6 separate regions of the Homo sapiens genome follow, and regions 2, 3, 4, 5 and 6 are each reported to be linked to region 1. Evidence: microRNA targets listed by miRTarBase, many of them from high-throughput screens and not tested one by one. Region 1 holds a microRNA gene; each other region holds the end of a gene's coding sequence.
What was found. The annotated mature microRNA hsa-miR-5690 reads UCAGCUACUACCUCUAUUAGG and lies in region 1 at 2,345-2,365, opposite strand. An mRNA with a match to its seed (bases 2 to 7 or 8) in the 3' UTR can be bound and repressed. Matches are read on the target gene's strand: a 7mer-m8 pairs with bases 2 to 8, a 7mer-A1 pairs with bases 2 to 7 and ends in A, and an 8mer does both.

Region 1 (3,127 bases):
AGACATGCACAACCACACCCAGCTAATTTTTTAATTTTTTTTTTTTTTTGTAGAGACAAGGTCGCACTATGTTGCCCAGGCTGTTCTTGAACTCCTGGGCTCAAGCGATCCTGCCACCTCAGCCTCCCAAAGTGCTGGGATTACAGATGTGAGCCATCACGCCTGGCTGTGTCCAAATATATTTCAACAAACTGCATCTCAAACTGGGTATACTAATATTTGGTGCCACTAGTAAGTATATATAAATATATAAGAGAACAAGGATTACCTAGCTATCATAATTACAGTAAATTTGTTTTGTTAATAGGAACTCATTTTAATTGTGCATTCATTTTTGCTGCTTTTGGCCCTTAGTTGTTTGAAAGCCAATAGTTTTCTAATTATACTATGAATCCTACACACCATGAATACCTACTGAATATGAAATGTCTGTAAGACCCTGTTCTAGGAGCTACAAAGAAAACTGAAATAAGTTAGCCCAAGGATTTTTTGTGAAGGCAAAGAAACATTTTAATTCCAAATAATTATTATTAGGTAGAAGAGAGCTACAAAGTGTTTCTGAGGGTCCCAAGGAGGCAGAAGATGGCAGTGTCTGAGCTGGATAGGCATACTTTCAACCGGCAAGGGTGTGGCAAGAGTAAAATCAAGGCTGGTAAAAGAACACAGCACGTTTCAAGCCTAAGCAGCTTAAGTGCAAAGTGGCTCCGGGTGGAAATGATGAGAGAGCAAGAGCACAAAGAGGACCCTCTAAAACAGAGCCAGTGACCATGTGAGCTGAGGGGGAGGGCTTCTCACAGGGCAAACGGTACAGAAAGACGCGAAGACACAAAGCATCATGACCCATCCAGGGAGCTGCATGTGATCCCACTTGGCTAAAGTGAAGGGTACATGTGGGAAAGAAGCAGATGATGCTAAATAAACAGGCAGAGGCCTGACTGTGAAGGACCTTGTGTGCCAAAGTAAAGTACGTGAACATTATTCCAAAGGCAACAGGGAACTGAGGCATTTTTAAGAAAAGAAATGACAAGCAGACTAGCTTTAAGAAAAAATTACTCTGGCACTCCAATGGTTTCCCATCTCACACAGGATAAAATCCAAAGTCCTTCTTATGCTTAATACCCTATACATGCTGATCACTCGCTATCTCTGAAATTATTTCTCCTTTTCCCTCACTCACTGCTCTGGCTACAGTGGCCTTCTTGCTGCCCCCTCCCATGTGCCCTTTCCTCAGTGCCTTTGCACTTGCTATCCCCACTACCTGGAACTCTTCCCTGGTTAGCTGCATAGCTCACTCCCTCACTCGCTTCAGGTCTGCCTTCATGTTCAAACCTTTTCTTATCAGAGTTGTTTTACTGTTACCGGAAATAAAAGAGCAAAAATCGACTATAATCAGCCCCACTATGTTTTCCTCCAGTGTATTTATAGTATTTGTATACTGCCTGTCTCTCCTTACTAGAATGTAAGCTCTATGATGGATCTCTTCAATAACCGTGTGACATTGAGATTGTTACTACTGACACGTCCAGACAGCAAATCTAATGGACGAGCTAAGTAATCTATCCAAGGATATACTTCTAGTGAACAGTGGAACCAGGGAGACTGACTCTGGAGCCTGCACTCTAACTATTTTACATACTGACTCCCCAGAAGTGTCACAGGTCTCTGACTCTGATTCTAAAGCATTTCCTGTGAACAGGCTCCATGCTGACAAGCACTAAGCCAGCAAAAATTCTGAATTCACAGTATGTTCTTCTAAAAAGATGGTGATTCTTACAATTTGTATTAGCCAAGTTTTAAAAGCCAGGGAATATTTTTTAAATAATCAATTAAAATGTACAAAGTATCTGGACTTTTACCTATCCAAAAATTAGCTGTTTTTTTTTTAGACCCACAGATATTCAAACAAGATGAAAGATTTTATGAACTAAAAGGAACACAGCATATGACACCAAAAACTACCCAAGACCCTTTTTCCGTTACCATATTCAATTTCAGGAATAAAACTCAACATCTTTAAAATAATCATCAAATTTTCTGACATGCCACTCCCGGAGGAAGAACAATGTGGTATCTACAGGAAAACATCCAGCAAATACAGTATCTCATGCACAGTAAAAGAATGAAAGGTAGGCTGCAGTAACATTTGTCTTTATTCTTTCCCCACTCCTGAAATTATTAAATTTCCTCTCTGCCTGGGCATTCTTTCATCCCATCTCCCATTACTATCAGTATCCTCTCCTTAAAATGCAGTTGTCAATCAACAGTTGTCCCCATCAACCACTTCATACCAGAACTCATCCACTCTTAATTTCAACTATTACCTCTATTAGTATAACTCCCAAATCCTAATAGAGGTAGTAGCTGAAATTAAAAGTGGCATAATTTCTCCCTCTTTCCTTCTCCAATCTTTGATTTCTCTCACTTCAGGACCCTTTTATTTCCTTATGTTTTTAAGGAAAATTAACTTTTTCAAAATTGGTCCCTTCTCCATTTATTTCATAATCTGTATTATCTGGCCATTCTCCTAGGTTTGCAACTTCAATATAATTTTTCTCCACTTAATCAATAGGACCGCCAACTATTCATTGTGTTTCTTATCTTACTTTCGACTCCATAGCTATCATCATATTTTGAGTTTTCTTCCTCTCCTTTGTGAATTACTACAGTTCTCCAGAGGACCTGCCTACCTCCAGACGGCTCACTCACTCCCACTCATTCTGTATACACTGCTAGTGAAGCCTTTCTGACACAGCACACCCACCACATTACTCTCTAATTCATGGACCTTAAATAGTGTTCCAACACAACAAATCTAAACTTCTCAAACCAGCACTCAGGGTCTTCTGCTCCTTTAGAATGTCACTAGTAAATGCTCCTCTTTTTTTTTTTTTTTAGAGGAGTCTCACTCTGTCACCAAGCTGGAGTGCAGTGGCGCGATCTCGGCTCACTGCAACCTCCGCCTCCCAGGTTCAAGCAATTCTCCTGCCTCAGCCTCCCGAGTAGCTGGGACTACAGGCGCGTGCCACCACACCCAGCTAATTTTTTTTGTATTTTTAGTAGAGATAGGGTTTCACTATGTTTGCCAGAATGGTCTCAATCTCTTGACTTCATGATCCGCCCGCCTCGG
Region 2 (3,127 bases), not on the chromosome of region 1:
TCCTCCCACCTTCACCTACCAAAGTACTGGCATTACAGATATAAACCACTGCACCTGGCTTATGCTAATGTTTTAAATATAAAAGCATATATACTGGGCATGGTGGCTCATGGCTATTATCTTAGCACTTTGGGAGGCTGAATCAGGAGAATCGCTTGAGCCTACGAATTAAAGGTTACAGTAAGCTGTCTTCACACCACGGCACACCAGCCTGGGTGTCAGAGTGAGACCCTGTCAAAAAGAAAGAAAGAAACAGAAAAACATTAGCATCAAGAGTTTTCTAACCCATGTTCAGCATATTACTATAACTTCTCCTATAACATTCTGACTTCCTATTTGTTTACAGGTTTTTGATGGGAGTGGATCATTTTTGTCCTACATTAACACATCTGCTGACCCACTCTATGGCCCCCAAGGCCTGGCCCTAACTTCAGATGGTCATGTTGTGGTTGCAGACTCTGGAAATCACTGTTTCAAAGTCTATCGATACTTACAGTAATGGTGGGCAGGTGGATACCCGCTTCCATGGTCTTGCACTATAAACTGGAATGGATTTCTCAATGCGGGACCAGATTATGACTAGAGTTTTTATGCCAGAAGGAATCATTGGTGAACTTTCCAAGGTTATTTCTGAATGTAACAATTTCCTTAAAAATGACTTATCCAATTTCTGTATTTCACCTTTAGGGTTAAAAAAAACTCTTCTACTGAATCTATAAAAACTGCAGTTTTACATCTGTGAACTATGGCTTAAGGGACAGGATTTATGTAGCTAAACTAATTTTGCAAATCAAACAGACACTTAAAAAACTAGCATATGTAAAGGTATTCGTTAATCCTGTGAATGGTAGCTTTTGCACAGAACTTCCAAAAGCAAAACAAAAACAAAATCTATTGTAGTTATATACTTCATTTAACCTAGGTCACAAGACCCAGGGAATCTTCTAACCTCACTTTTACAGTAGGTATTACTCTTGTGACATTTTTTTGGTTATCAACAACTAAATATAAATTACTTTGGAAAAAGTAAGGCTGTCTTGCAAAATGATCCCAGCTCTGATTAGCAGCCCTCTGGAGTTCAGAACTTAAGTATCAGTGCAAATTTCTCAACCTTTCTGGGTTAGACAAAGATCCTTTTTTGTGTGTTCTTTTCACCACCCCTTTGGCTCACCTTGTATCAGCAAACAAAGTACTTCTTCAGGGAAACCTGAAATTTCTAATGCCTTGAAAAGCATATTACAAAAGTAATGCTACCTTTTGGGAAACAAACTGCCCCGTTAACTCCAGATCATTGCACTGGAATGTAATCAAGAAAGTTAGTCATGTTTTATGTACCATGTTTTCACACGTGTCTCTTCTCTTCGACTTCCTGAAAGCGAAAGCTTTACCTCCTGCAAATGTCAGCACATGTAGTAGGACACCAGTATCCTAGGACAGAGAGCCATAAGTAGCCCTTTGGAGGACTGATGGTGTCAACCAAAGGCATGTGATTGATTAATGATTCCCCCTTAGAAAGCAAGTGTTACCAAAGTTGTGTTATCTTGAAAGCATTACAGGTAAGGGCATGTTATGGTTATTTATCATTGTTTAATGAATAGTAGAGGTGTCAAGGGACTATGTATACATGATTAGGGTAAGATAGAATGTATTATATATATATATATATACACACACACATATATATAGCTGAATCTTTGGTGTATTGAAATAGGCAGCACTCTGAAAGACAGAAGCTTCGTCCAGCCACTCTTCAGCACATTCCTTTACTAAGCAGTTTAAAGCCGTCCTAGTGGAGCAAGCCCTAAAGCAGATTTAATTTTTGCCATTTTCCAAGAATGACGGTGGTGGCTTTTAGTCAGAAAATGGCCTTCTGTGCTTTCAAAAAAAAAAACAAAAAAAAAACCACACACACACATAAAAAACCCAACAGGTCAAAATAAAAGTTGAACTTGAGTTACATTTAATTTAAATATAAATGCATTTTGAGAAATGTTAAGAACAATTTAGTCAATCGTTCATCTGTCATTGGTACTGTAAAATAAGCTGTGGTCTATTTCCACTGTTTAATTTTCTACTCAGTTCTACCAAATAGGATGTCATGTTTGACATTTTTGATAGTGACTTTGGGGTCTTCTTCACTGAAAGCACCTTAGAACTGTACTATAAGAAAACATTTCCCCTATGTATAATTATATGAATGTGATGTTTATTGCTTATTAATTTATAATTCAGTCATTCTCTATATAGGACTTCTTAAAATTTAGAAGGGAAATCTAGCTACTTCAAATTGTCTGTTAAATTTATTATGCCCAAATCAACCTCTGAAAAAAGGTTTTTCCAGGAAGATTTACATTTAGGTTTAATATTTTTTTAGTTAGGTAGAGTTTTAAAAAATACTTGAGCCTGTCCGTGATAAAGCTATAAAATTCAATAACTTTTTAGAATGTTAAATGAAGACACTGTTTCCTAACATCAGTGAGATACATCTTTGAATTTAAACATTCATATTTACTGAGTACCTACTAGGTACCAAGTACTCTTTTAGGCACTGGAAATACAGTGATGGACAAAACAGGTAAAAAATCGCTGCCCCCTCAGAGCTGACATTCTGGGGTGGGAATTTCATTTTGCCACGTACTAACGTTCTGCACAAAAGACAGGCTAGACTCTTGTCTAGATTGTTTAAAAGAAACTTTTCAAATTGGTTACATTAATTTTAGTTTATTTTCACAAGTAAAAATGGCTTTTTATTTAGATTCTTTCTGTCCCAGGCTGTTGATCTTAAAACTAGTTGATTTAAAGAGTTTTTTTGCACAACATTTCAATTATATTTGTGAACTTAGAAATTAACTTACAATCTAACCAGCCATCATATCATATCCTATCAGGCTAGATATCTCAATAGTAGACTGAATACAAAGCTAATTTTTTTTACATGTCAATATTGGCACAAACTGGAATGAAAGAATAGTTTGATTCAGACCTGCTCCACTATGTGTTGCTAAAACACATGCTATGAGCACTCCAGGAAACACTATATTTTTTCCAAAAAATATGTGATTATATATGTTAAAGTATAGATAACATTTCACACTTGGATACATATGTGCATTTACTGTATTTCTTG
Region 3 (3,127 bases), not on the chromosome of region 1:
AAAGTAAAATCGCTAAATCCATACACAGTGATTATATAAAATTAGATATTTGCAATCACAATGAATATTCATTATAGTGGAAAGATTTAGGTCACGAGATTTTTTTTTTCCCTAAAAATTTCAAAAGAACAATTTTCTATCTTCATTTTACTAATTATAAAATAAACATAGTTGCTTTTTTAATGTTCCATGAATATCACCAGAGTGTGACATAGTAGATTAAAAAATAAAGATATACATTTATTTCCATGTCCTACCTTTGGGACAATTTATGAGGAACTTATGGACAAGTAACAGAACTGCTTTGAACTCTAAAAAGAAATGGACTTTACAAATCCCTAACCAGTAGTATGGGATTTACCAGATCCTCTAGGTTTTACATGGTCACGACTATTTCTCTCCAACTGTTTTAAAAGAATTTCCTGGAGCCATCTGAGGACATTTGAGGTAATGTCCTTCCACACCTAATAACTGCTGTATCTCCATGATTGCAAACTTGAAAATCAGGAAACACCAAAGCAACATTACTCACAAAATAAACAGCAAAATCAGAATCTCTGGAGTCAACTTATGAAACATGATTTACAAAGATATTCTTACATTTCTTAATTTATTTTTAATAAGTAAAAAATACTCATTGAAACTGTACAAAAATCAAATCATTAATTTTTGCACCTGGTATTTCAGTCATCAACAGCAATCTCATGGTACAGAAATAAAATAATGGGAATTATCATTAACTTCACCCTGGCTTTCTAGCTTAGTAGAACCAAACAGAAGAAATCATGGCAATAACCATTAACTATAGAAAAAAAGTAATGGAAAAATGGTTGCAGGTTTAATCACAAAATGAACTTAATTTTTGTTGATTTTGTTTTATCTGCTAAAACACTAATATCTATAAATATGAACTGACAGCATCGTTCTAAATTTACTTCTGAAGAGCTGTCGAGACTTCAATAAAATATAAGCAAGTTACTGGATCATATTTATGGACTGCTGAATTAACTACCCGAAAAGTATCAGTTACTTTCAAAGAACACAAAACAAAGTGAACGTGGAAAAAAGCCTTCTTTGCAAAAGTCCTTTTATTAGTCCTATCCTCTAAAATTCCAAGCCACAGAGCCTTGATATTCCTGGATTCTGTTTTAAGTAACCTTAGTTTTAAATATGACACTTGGGATATGCACAATGGGAAAGGGTAGGATATGTGAACAAAATTTAATTTCTTTTTTCCAAAGGTAGTCATTTTCTTTAAATTCATCCTATCCACTTTTGCCCACTTCCCCATGTACAGATTATCCTTTAGTCATACAAATTCACTCTCCACTTCCACATACATTTTCCCCACTTGATGGTACTTTTACAAGAGGGAAACAATACAGCTGGTTGATAAAGTAATTTAAACTATTTGTAAATGAAATAAAAAGAAAGTAGGTATAATACATAGTGTAAAAGATACCAAATTGGAGTAATATTGATGTTAATCTAGTTTTTTATTTAACAAAGTACCTACTAATGGTCTGAGCAGGAGAGTAGAAGGAAAGGAGCTAGAGGGAAATTACTTCCTATGGTTAAAAAAAAGCCAACTGCTTCAGAATGCATGACAGTCTTAGTAATAAAAGAATCATTTACTATTTTCACTGAGTTTACAGTGTTGGGTACTACTGTTTACATCATTTTAATGAAAGTATTTATAAAAACATCTGCAATAGTTCATATCAGAAAACAAAGTTTCTCTCAATAAAGACCTTAAAAAATAAATTTTTATCTTCATTAACTCCCTTTCTGGGAATGGGAATGAAATAACATGCTTCTGTTTAAAAAAAAAAAACAAAAAAAACACAAAATTTAATACCCTAATTAGGTTTCTGGAAAAAAAAAAGACTACCCTAGCAATAATTTTTAACATTCTACATTTCATCTATTTCTAAAGACACTCCCTTTACAAAATCTTTTAGTTTTATATATTAGGACAATCAGGTTTAGAGTCTCACATAAATAAAATAGCCACATTAGAAGGCATACTGAAGAATCAAATGGTTAGCCACATTTGTCTGTTCACATTCACGGATTCTCTAAGAGCGTTGTGAGAGTCCATATAATACTGTTCACGTTTAGTCTAAGTTAATATGTCTCATCTGACCTATTGCTCCTACAACACTGATGCTATCAACAAAAATCCTGATTTTGGGGACACAGTGATATAACAAACTGGTTAAACGAGCAGAGGTAATAGGACAGTAAACTGTAACTGCACAATTTAAAATATCCACCCTTCATCCACCACTACCATACTTCTTCCCAGTGGTATTAAATTCTCAAAGCCAAATCATATCAGAGGTGCAGGATGCCAAACACTATTTGCATAGAAAATCAGTCTTCAAGACTAAACAAAAAAGAAATTCATAAAATTAAACTTTTTGAATAGTTGCATTCGTTGCTTTCAATTTCTTCATCCATATCTGTTCTGGTCATACATATTTTTTCCTTCTTTTTATCCAGAGAGATTAATACACAGATTAATACACAAAACTTTTGTAAATAGCATTCCAGTTCAAAGTTGCTTGTGATCATAGCCACGTGTGAACCGTTAGACAAGTGTATGCTATGCCCCAAAATGTTTTATAATTCTTCAGTGCAGTTTCTTACTGATGTTTCCCTTAAAATTAAGGCTTAATGAAAGAGAAATCCATAGTATTATGAACTGATTTTCTTTAGCTTCTGAATTAAGTGCACTCTTTCCAAAATCAAGTGGTCCTGGAGTAACGTTAAGACAACTTGTATTAATCAGTGTCATGACTGAAGTAGTATCTTACTGGAGGTCCCGGCAAATCTTCATCTCCATCAATGTCTGGAGCAAATGACACAGTAAGATCCACATATTTCTTTTCAGTAGTAGGTTTTACAAGTTTATGCATTCTAAGAAAAATAAGCAAGAATGAATACTTTGGTAAATTCTATAAAATGAAAAAATGATTTGCTGACTAATGCCATCCAGAGAACCTGGACTTGTATCTAGACTTTAACATCTAATAATAATCTGCTTTCACATATTCATTTTTCTTTACTAAAAGGTCTGAACTCATTTATACTCAAGACACTCATTTACCTAACAGTGAATAAA
Region 4 (3,127 bases), not on the chromosome of region 1:
TCTCAGTAAGCACCAGAAAACTCATACCGGAGAAAAGCCCTACATTTGTTCTGAATGTGGGAAGACCTTTCGACAGAAGTCAGAGTTGATTACACATCACAGAATTCATACTGGAGAGAAACCTTATGAGTGCAGTGACTGTGGGAAGTCTTTCACTAAAAAATCACAGCTCCAAGTGCATCAGCGAATTCACACTGGAGAGAAGCCTTACGTGTGTGCTGAGTGTGGGAAGGCCTTTAGCAACAGGTCCAATTTGAATAAACATCAGACAACACACACTGGAGACAAACCCTACAAGTGTGGCATCTGTGGGAAAGGCTTCGTTCAGAAATCAGTGTTCAGTGTTCATCAGAGCAGCCACGCTTGAGAGAAACAGTGTGAGAAAACCCCCCTGAGGGTTGGGTCTGATTGTACACTGTTGCACGCATGCAGCAGAAAAATATGTATATTATTGTAAATAGAAATGACCACATCAGAATGTCACACATGGCTGTTCTGGAGAGGGCCTCTGAGAAGGCACTGAATGAGGCGAGGGACCCTTCCTACATTGTCACCATCCCCAGTAAACCTTGGGTCATTATTCATACTGACAAGGAACCGAGTCAATTTGGTGAATAGGAAAAGCCTTCTCATGAAAACTACAATAGAATACTGTTACCAAATTCTTCATAAGAAAGATCATATTATGGGAATGATAATCCTGTTTACTGTGGATTAGGTATAGTGCCAACAGTTTGAATGGTAAGACAACATAATATATATGATAGTGATGAATCCTTCTGTGAGTTGTTTGTTCCAGAACACACTGTCTAGTAGAATTGTGGGTATTTTCTTCTTTTGAATCGAACACAGTTGTGCATATCCAATTCCCCATTGAGTATTTCTATCAAGCAAGAGATACTGCAATAAGACAAACTCCCTGTGTATTCAGACACAGACCTCAGAGCGTATGTTGAGTCCCCATTGTCATAGAAAAAGACTTACAGTCCCCTTCATTATCTGCCAGGACTCTCTCTGAGCCCCACAGGTTCTCAGCACATTGTGTTTGACACCCAGCACAGTGTTTTTTCTTTTTCTTTCTTTCTTTCTCTTTCTTTCTTTCTTTCTTTCTTTCTTTCTTTCTTTCTTTCTTTCTTTCTTTCTTTCTTTCCTTCTTTCTTTCTTTTTCTTTCTTTCTCTTTCTTTCTTTCTTTCTTTCTTTCTTTCTTTCTTTCTTTCTTTCTTTCTTTCTTTCTTTTTTTGAGACAGAGTCTTGCTCTGTCGGGCAAGCTAGAGTGCAGTGGCGCTATCTTGGCTCACTGCAACCTCCGTCTCCCGGGCTCAAGCAATTCTCCTGCCTCAGCCTCCTGAGTAGCTGGGATTGCGTGTGCCACCACGCCCAGCTAATTTTTGTATGTTTAGTAGAAACGGGGGTTTCACCATGCTGGCCAGGCTGGTCTCGAACTCCTGACCTCATGATCCGCCCGCCTCGGCCTCCCAAAGTCCTGGGATTACGGACGTGAGCCACTGCGCCCGGCCCAGCACAGTGTTTTGTACACTCCCACCACCCTCAAGAAAGCCTTTGAGGTTAGGATTTTCAGGTCATCTGGGAGAACTTAAATTCTTCCTTCTGCTATTACAATTCTTCTCACTCAGTTGCCTGCCTCTTTTTTTTTTTTAATTTACTTGTGACTGAGTTGAAGCCCAGCATTTTACTTTCCTTAATGATCTGACTTTCATAAGTTGATAAGTCATGAAATCATTATCTTACATTATATGAGATATGAGATAAATCATAAATCATATGAAATTGATAACTCATATGAAAACCAACCCCACCATATGTTCACTGTCTACTTGTGTCCATCTTCGTCCCACGCACCCCACAAGGACCTTCCCCGCCATGTGCCTCAAACATCAGTTCCTGACTCAGGGCCTTTGTATTTGCAGTGCCCGTTGCAAAGAGCACAATTCTTTATTTTATCTGTGGCTTGTCCGTCATGTCTTTTTTTCCATGACACCTCCACACAGGCCTTCCCTGCCTGCCTGGTTTAAAATTCCAGCCCCTTACCCTTCCTCCTTTATTCTTCTCCCTAGCAATTTCCACCATGCTGCCTGGTGTATTTTCCTCATTTCTCTGTGGCTTCTACACTAGAAAATATTTCCCTTTTGTTCACCACTATGAGTCTAGACCCATGACTGCCATACAGCAGGCATTCCATAAATGCACCTGTGGAGAGTTGACCCATGCTTGTTGCGTGACTTCTGTCTGATTTTTTTCTGTGTTGCAGCATAAGAAGCGCTAATAGGGAGAACCAACTTGGCTAAAACACACCAGGCTTTTTCACCTCTAGTCTGTACCTGGGCTGTATCCCTTCTCAACCCTAAAGCTAAAAAGTCATTGTGAACCTTTTGGTCTGATGCTAAAGAAGGGAAAACAGGTACAGGAAATCCCATGTGGATGCTTGCTTCCAGGATTTCCTGCCATGATTCCAGAATCCCACAGCTCCAACATGATTGCAAAAGACTCCCTGCTCATTTTTCCTCAGCATGCACAGCGCTGTCCTGTCTCAGTTGCAACTCGACAGAGCCGCATTTACTCCAGAACCCAATCCACACACCTGCTCATCCTGCCCCGAGAGGAGTGCCTGAAGCCAATAGCAGGGAACTAGAGCAGACTTGGGTGGATCTTCATTGGATATTAGGTATCTTGCCCTAGATAGGCAGCAGTGGCCTTACAGATGCTGACAGATGATCTGATTAGATGCACAGTTGCTGGGTGGCGTCTGGGGCCAGTCTATTGGCAGTTCTGGGAGTGGGAACTATTTGGGCTCTGCAAAGATGGTTTCACCTTTAAGAAGGGCAGTATGGGGAGGTGAAGATGGGGCCCAAAGGATAGAACATAGTCAAAGAAGCAGGGCCACAATGCCCCTTTAATTCCCAAGCCCTAGTTGGGCAGTGCTTGGTGACACATCCCATTACCTCACCTTAGATCAATGTCTACTGAGCCATCATTAGCTCTGCTTCCTCACTTCTTCACAGTATCTGATGGCCCATCACATGCTGCTCAACATCTTAGACCAATGTCTGCTCACCCATTACCTCCCTTCACCTCATCCAGCACTGTATCTGAAGCTTCACTATTCTT
Region 5 (3,000 bases), not on the chromosome of region 1:
CTAATTAAAATAATTTGATTTGTTTCAATATTGCTCTTCTGAAACTAGGTAGAAACTCATACTCGCAAAGAAGGCATTTATTTACTCCATAATTTTTTTAAACCCAAGCTTTATCTTTAAAGTAATATATGTATATATTTAACTCTGTGTAAATCAAAACTAATAGTCTGTATGTGCTTGCAGGCAGAGAGGCAACATGTTTGAAGAAAAATATATAACAATTTTTTAATGTTAATTCAGGTCTCAGAAATGTATGCATTTTGTTTATATTGTTTTCTTATGACCATAAAAGAGACCCTGTAGCCAACAACAATTTAATGTACATTTGAAAACAACTAAAAGTGGCTGGGTGTGGTGGCTCCCACCTGTAATCCCAGCACTTTGGGAGGCCGAGGGGGCTAATCATGGGGTCAGGAGTTCAAGACAAACCTGGCCAACGTAGTGAAACTGTTTCTACTAAAAATACAAAAATTAGCTGAGTGTGGTGGCATGCGCCTGTAGTCCCAACTACTCAGGAGGCTGAGGCGGAAGAATCACTTGAACCCAGTAGGCGGAGGTTGCAGTGAGCTGAGACCACGCCAATGCACCCAGGCGTGCACAGCCTGGGTGACATAGTGAGACTCGTCTCAAAAAAAAACCGAAAAGTGCAGAATTAGTTTATAATACAAACAAATACAAACAATAAATGCTGCAGGTAATGAATATTTCATTTACCCATATGTAATTATTACATATTATATACCTGTATCAAAATATGCCATATATGCCATATTTACACATACTATGTACCCACAAAAATTAAGAAAAATAAGTTTAAATAAGAAAAAATGAGTAATAATTCAACCTACAGGAATAATATTCTCTGACTTATTTGCAATTTAAAGCCACTGGCAAAACAGATTACTAGAAATGTTAGTCCATTATCTTATTAAATAGTGTATAGTTACCATCATTTACCTATACCCTTGAGTAAGATGGGATAAGTTAAATTTAATGGCATAATAATGCTTCATTGAATGCACGATGGTCTTAACATGTTTTTTAAAAAGCCTGATTAATAAGTTCACACATTATCTAAAAATTTTAAAATGTACTACATTTTATTACATAAAAGTACAATTGGCCAGGCATGGTGACTCGCGCCTGTAATCCCAGCACTTTGGGAGGCCGAGGTGGGTGGATCACCCGAGGTCGGGAGTTTGAGACCAGCCTGACCAACATAGAGAAACCCCATCTCTATTAAAAATACAAAATTAGCCGGGCATGGTGGCACATGCCTGTAATCCCAGCTACTCGGGAGGCTGAGGCAGGAGAATCCCTTGAACCTGGGAGGTGGAGGTTTTGGTGAGCCAAGATCACACCATTGCACTCCAGCCTGGGCAACAAGAGCAAAACTCTGTCTCAAAAAAAAAAAAAGTACAATTAGTAAAATGATATACCAGAAAATTTTTTTTCTCAATATAACACAGGATATTTATCTGAACTCCTACCTCATGCATCAGTCAATATTATAAATTAACCAGAAAGAGCCTCTCCACTTACATTTTCATCTTGCATCTTACATTTTAATGTCCTTAACTCTTTCACTAAAAAAGGTCGTAAATAATGCACACCTAATAACAAAGAATCTCTCATCTTTGATGCAGCAACAATTAAGTCACATGCTTTCACATGTGAATACAATAGGAATGAAGAGCATAACTTGAGTTAAATGACATTATTCACTTTTCATAAAACCTAATTTTTTTCAAAGGATAGTTTGAATGTAGTTACAACTCTGCAAAAATTTTCTACTTCTTATAATGTTATATACAAATAATTCATTTACCAACTTTAGTTTTAGATTCTTTTCTATACTCAGCAATCTGATTTAGTGTAATGCCTGAAGTGTCAGTGCCTTAACTATTTCTACTGTGAATTATCTGATATTTACATAGAATTTTGGATTAAATATTTTTTCATATTTACTGCATCTGCAAAAATAGATTTTAGTATGAACCCTCTAGTGTTTTCTAAGCTGTCGTTTTTGAAAAAATGTTTTCCCAAATTTATTACATTTGCAGGGTTTTTCTCCAATATAAATTTCCTTATGTTGCACAAAGTTTAAGCAACTGCTCCATGGTTTTCCTCTAGCACAAAATGTGTACAATGAGATCTGTGATACAAGTAAAGGTACCACAACCCTCCTTATGTTCATAATGTGTGTCTTCAAAATGAATACTCTTCACTTTAGAGGCTTATATTTTCTGAAAGATTTTTGACAGTAATTGCATGTATAATGCTTTTATTAAGTATGAAATCTCTGATGTTGAGTAAGATGTGAACAGATATTAATGGCTTTTTCACATTCTGTATATTTGAAATTTTTTTCTAGTACAAATGCTTTCCTGTGCAATAAGGTGTGAGCATTGGTTAAAAGTTTTGCCACATTCTTCACACTTGTAGGTTTTTTTTTAGTATGAATTATCTTATGCACAATCAAGTGTGACAACTTTTAAAGGTTTTGTTACATTCTTCACATTTCTAAGATTTCTCACCAGCATAATTTCTTTTATGTTTAGAAAACTTTGAAGTGTTTTCAAAATCACTGTTACATCTTTTAGGTTTGTAGAGTTTCTCACCAGTATGAATTTTCTTATGTCCAGTAAGGTTTGAGGACTGGTTAAAAGCTTTGCCACATTTTTCACATTGGTAGGGTTTCTCTCCAGTATGAATTCTCTTATGTCTAGTAAGGTGTGAGGACTGGTTAAAGGCTTTACCACATTCTTCACATTGGTAGGGTTTCTCTCCAGTATGAATTACCTTATGTGTAGCAAGATGTGAGGAATGGTTAAAGGCTTTGCCACATTCTTCACATGTGTAGGGTTTCTCTCCAGTATGAATTTTCTTATGTTCAGTAAGTTTTGAGGATCGATAGAAAGCTTTGCCACATTCTTCACATTTGTAGGATTTCTCTCCAGTATGAATTCTCTTATGTGTAGTAAGGATTGAGGACTGGTT
Region 6 (3,127 bases), not on the chromosome of region 1:
GAGCCAGCACGCCCGGCCCCAGGTGGTCTTTTTAGCGGGTATTAAAGCAGCTTTCTCTCTGAGCCTTAAACCATGAAGATAGACAGACTCAGTGTATGGGTTTTAGAGTTGTAATTTTATAAAAATAAGAAAAAGTCGACCTATCATTGATGGTTAGTATTTTTTGTAGCAGTTGCATGCAATATTAGGATAAGGCATGTTCTCAAAAAGAACTCTTTTTTTTTTTTTTTTTGAGACGGAGTCTCGCTCTGTCACCCAGGCTGGAGTGCAGTGGCACGATCTCCGCTCACTGCAAGCTCCTCTTCCCGGGTTCACGCCATTCTCCTGCCTCAGCCTCCCCAGTAGCTGGGACTACAGGCGCCCGCCACCGCGCCCGGCTAATTTTTTGTATTTTTAGTAGAGACGGGGTTTCACCGTGTTAGCCAGGAAGGTCTCGATCTCCTGACCTCATGATCCGTCCGCCTCAGCCTCCCAAAGTGCTGGGACTACAGGCGTGAGCCACTGCACTTGGCCTTTTTTTTTTTTTAGATGGAGTTTTGCTCTTGTCGCCCGGGCTGGAGTATAATGGCATGATCTCGACTCACTGCAACCTCCGCCTCCCGAGTTCAAGCGATTCTCCTGCCTCAGCCTCCCGAGTAGCTGGGATTACAGGTGCCCACCACCATGTCAAGATAATGTTTGTATTTTCAGTAGAGATGGGGTTTGACCATGTTGGCCAGGCTGGTCTCGAACTCCTGACCTCAGGTGATCCACCCGCCTTAGCCTCCCAAAGTGCTGGGATGACAGGCGTGAGCCCCTGCGCCCGGCCTTTGTAACTTTATTTTTAATTTTTTTTTTTTTTTTAAGAAAGACAGAGTCTTGCTCTGTCACCCAGGCTGGAGCACACTGGTGCGATCATAGCTCACTGCAGCCTCAAACTCCTGGGCTCAAGCAATCCTCCCACCTCAGCCTCCTGAGTAGCTGGGACTACAGGCACCCACCACCACACCCAGCTAATTTTTTTGATTTTTACTAGAGACGGGATCTTGCTTTGCTGCTGAGGCTGGTCTTGAGCTCCTGAGCTCCAAAGATCCTCTCACCTCCACCTCCCAAAGTGTTAGAATTACAAGCATGAACCACTGCCCGTGGTCTCCAAAAAAAGGACTGTTACGTGGATGTTCTAGCTTCCTGTTCTCGTCTTTTCTTTGTTAATTGTACAGTTTGAGGGTGTGTGTGCGTGTGCGCGCGTGTGTGTGTGCAGTCTCCTGATTTCATGTATTTAATTGTTATTACCACCACCTCCATCTCTCATTCCTTCTTACCCTCACTGTGTAAAGATACATGTTGTTTTTAAATTTTATTTATTTATATTTATTTATTTGTATTTTTGAGGCAGAGTCTCACTCTGTTGCCCAGGCTAGTGGCATGATCTCAGCTCACAGCAACCTTTGCCTCCTGGGTTCAAGCGATTCTCCTGCCTCAGCCTCCCGAGTAGCTGAGATTACAGGCACACACCACCACACCCGGCTAGTTTTGTTTTGAGACGGAGTCTCGCTCTGTTGCAGGCTGCAGTGCAGTGGCGTGATCCTGGCTCACTGCAACCTCTGCCTCCTGGATTCAAGCGATTCTCCTGCCTCAGCCTCCCAAGTAGCTGGGATTACAGGCGCCCACCGCCACACCTGGCTAATTTTTTATTGGTAGTAGAGACGGGGTTTCTCCATGTTGACCAGACTGGTCTTGAACTCCCAACCTCGGGTGATCCACCCACCTGGGCCTCCCAAAGTGCTGGGATGACAGGCGAGGGCCACCGCGTCCAGCCTTCTTCTTCTTCTTCTTTTTTTTTTTTTTAAGATGGAGTTTCACTCTGTTGCCCAGGCTGGAGTGCAGTGGTGCAATCTCGGCTCCCTGCAACCTCCACCTCCCAGGTTCAAGAAATTCTTTTGCCTCAGCCTCCCGAGTAGCTGGGACTACAGGTGCCCGCCACCACACCCACCTAATGTTTGTATTTTTTTGGTAGAGACGGGGCTTCACCACATTGGCCAGGCTGGTCTTGAACTCCTGACTTCAGATGATCCTCCTGCCTCAGCCTCCCAGAGTGTTGGGATTACAGGCGTGAGCCACGGTGCCCGGCCAGACGTCATGTCTTAGGAAATCAGAAAGTGGGTAGTTTCCGCACTCTGAGGAGAAAAAGAGACGTCCAGCGAAGAGAAAGGAGAGTGAAAGGATGTCTCCTCTTGTCTGTAGCCTGTTCTCAATCGTGAGTGAGCCAATTGCCAGAAACTGAGGGTGCTTCATTTGGCCAGGCAAGCTTCTCAACAGAATGTCTAAGTACTTGTTAATGCTGAGAAGCTCTCCAAGCTACTGCACTCCAGCCTGGGTGACAGAGCACGACCTTGTCTGAAAACAATTAATTAATCAATTAATTAATATAATGAAATCATACTGAACTCAGGAGACCATTGGGGTGGGCAGGGCTGGGGTTGGAAGGGAACATAAAATACGGTGCAGTGGACTTTGCTCCAGTCTCCCTCCCCATCTCTTCTCGCCAAGAGTCTCTGGAGGGAGCATGGGGAAGATGCTTTGGGAATCTGTAACTTCTTGTCTTGTAAACAGAATATCTAAGTAATTGTTAATGCTGAGAAGTTATAGATTTCCAAAGCCTTTCTCCAGGCTACGGACAAGGGTCATGGGTTACTCAGTGTTACAGAAAGAATGACATGGAGATGTTTGTTACATCTTAAGGAACCATGAGGGGCCAGAGTATTTTACTCTAAGTGTAGATGGTACATTGGCCACGCCTGTCCCAACACCACCAATGGTGGCACCTAACTTTTGTGTTTGTGCCCCACATTTCTTCTTCTTTTCTGACGTAAATGCAAGTGATATTCCTTGGAAACCATGCTGCAGCAAGAGGCCATCTGACTACTAGTGATACCCTGTAGCTCACCTACAGCAGCTCACTTGAAGCAGCTCACCCATAGCTCAGGTATAGCTCACCTGCAGCGGCTCACCTGTAGCTCACGTGTAGCTCACTTGTAGCAGCTCACTGGTAGCTCACCTGCAGCAGCTCACCTGTACCTCACCTGTACCTCACCTGCAGCAGCTCACCTGTAGCTCACCTGTACGTGAGCCACCGTACCCGGCCAGC

Region 2: miRTarBase lists TRIM2 as a target of hsa-miR-5690. Seed matches in the 3' UTR shown: 7mer-A1 at 1,684-1,690.
Region 3: the mRNA of UBA6 is a reported target of hsa-miR-5690. The part of its 3' UTR that is shown has no 7-base or 8-base seed match.
Region 4: the mRNA of ZNF585B is a reported target of hsa-miR-5690. Seed matches in the 3' UTR shown: 7mer-m8 at 1,351-1,357.
Region 5: the mRNA of ZNF681 is a reported target of hsa-miR-5690. Seed matches in the 3' UTR shown: 7mer-m8 at 1,287-1,293.
Region 6: miRTarBase lists SHOX as a target of hsa-miR-5690. Seed matches in the 3' UTR shown: 7mer-m8 at 636-642 and 7mer-m8 at 957-963.

What each region holds. Positions count from the first base shown.
Region 1 is chr6:35,662,416-35,665,542 of GRCh38, forward strand. It overlaps MIR5690 (microRNA 5690), which reads right to left and starts at 2,374; the gene lies at 2,302-2,374. The region is part of intron 1 of FKBP5 (FKBP prolyl isomerase 5); the gene reads right to left. RefSeq lists enhancers at 281-782, 783-1,282.
Region 2 is chr4:153,334,468-153,337,594 of GRCh38, forward strand. It overlaps TRIM2 (tripartite motif containing 2), which reads left to right. Exons shown (of 12, transcript NM_015271.5): 12 at 347-3,127. The coding sequence ends at 499. Among named protein-coding and RNA genes, the nearest start is that of MND1, 8.7 kb to the right of the region's middle.
Region 3 is chr4:67,616,211-67,619,337 of GRCh38, forward strand. UBA6 (ubiquitin like modifier activating enzyme 6) reads right to left here. Exons shown (of 33, transcript NM_018227.6): 33 at 1-2,922. The coding sequence ends at 2,787. Among named protein-coding and RNA genes, the nearest start is that of STAP1, 59 kb to the left of the region's middle.
Region 4 is chr19:37,182,467-37,185,593 of GRCh38, reverse strand. ZNF585B (zinc finger protein 585B) reads left to right here. Exons shown (of 5, transcript NM_152279.4): 5 at 1-3,127. The coding sequence ends at 367. Among named protein-coding and RNA genes, the nearest start is that of ZNF585A, 11 kb to the right of the region's middle.
Region 5 is chr19:23,741,089-23,744,088 of GRCh38, forward strand. ZNF681 (zinc finger protein 681) reads right to left here. Exons shown (of 4, transcript NM_138286.3): 4 at 1-3,000. The coding sequence ends at 2,524. Among named protein-coding and RNA genes, the nearest start is that of ZNF681, 16 kb to the right of the region's middle.
Region 6 is chrY:658,257-661,383 of GRCh38, forward strand. It overlaps SHOX (SHOX homeobox), which reads left to right. Exons shown (of 6, transcript NM_006883.2-2): 6 at 529-1,155. The coding sequence ends at 573. Among named protein-coding and RNA genes, the nearest start is that of SHOX, 35 kb to the left of the region's middle.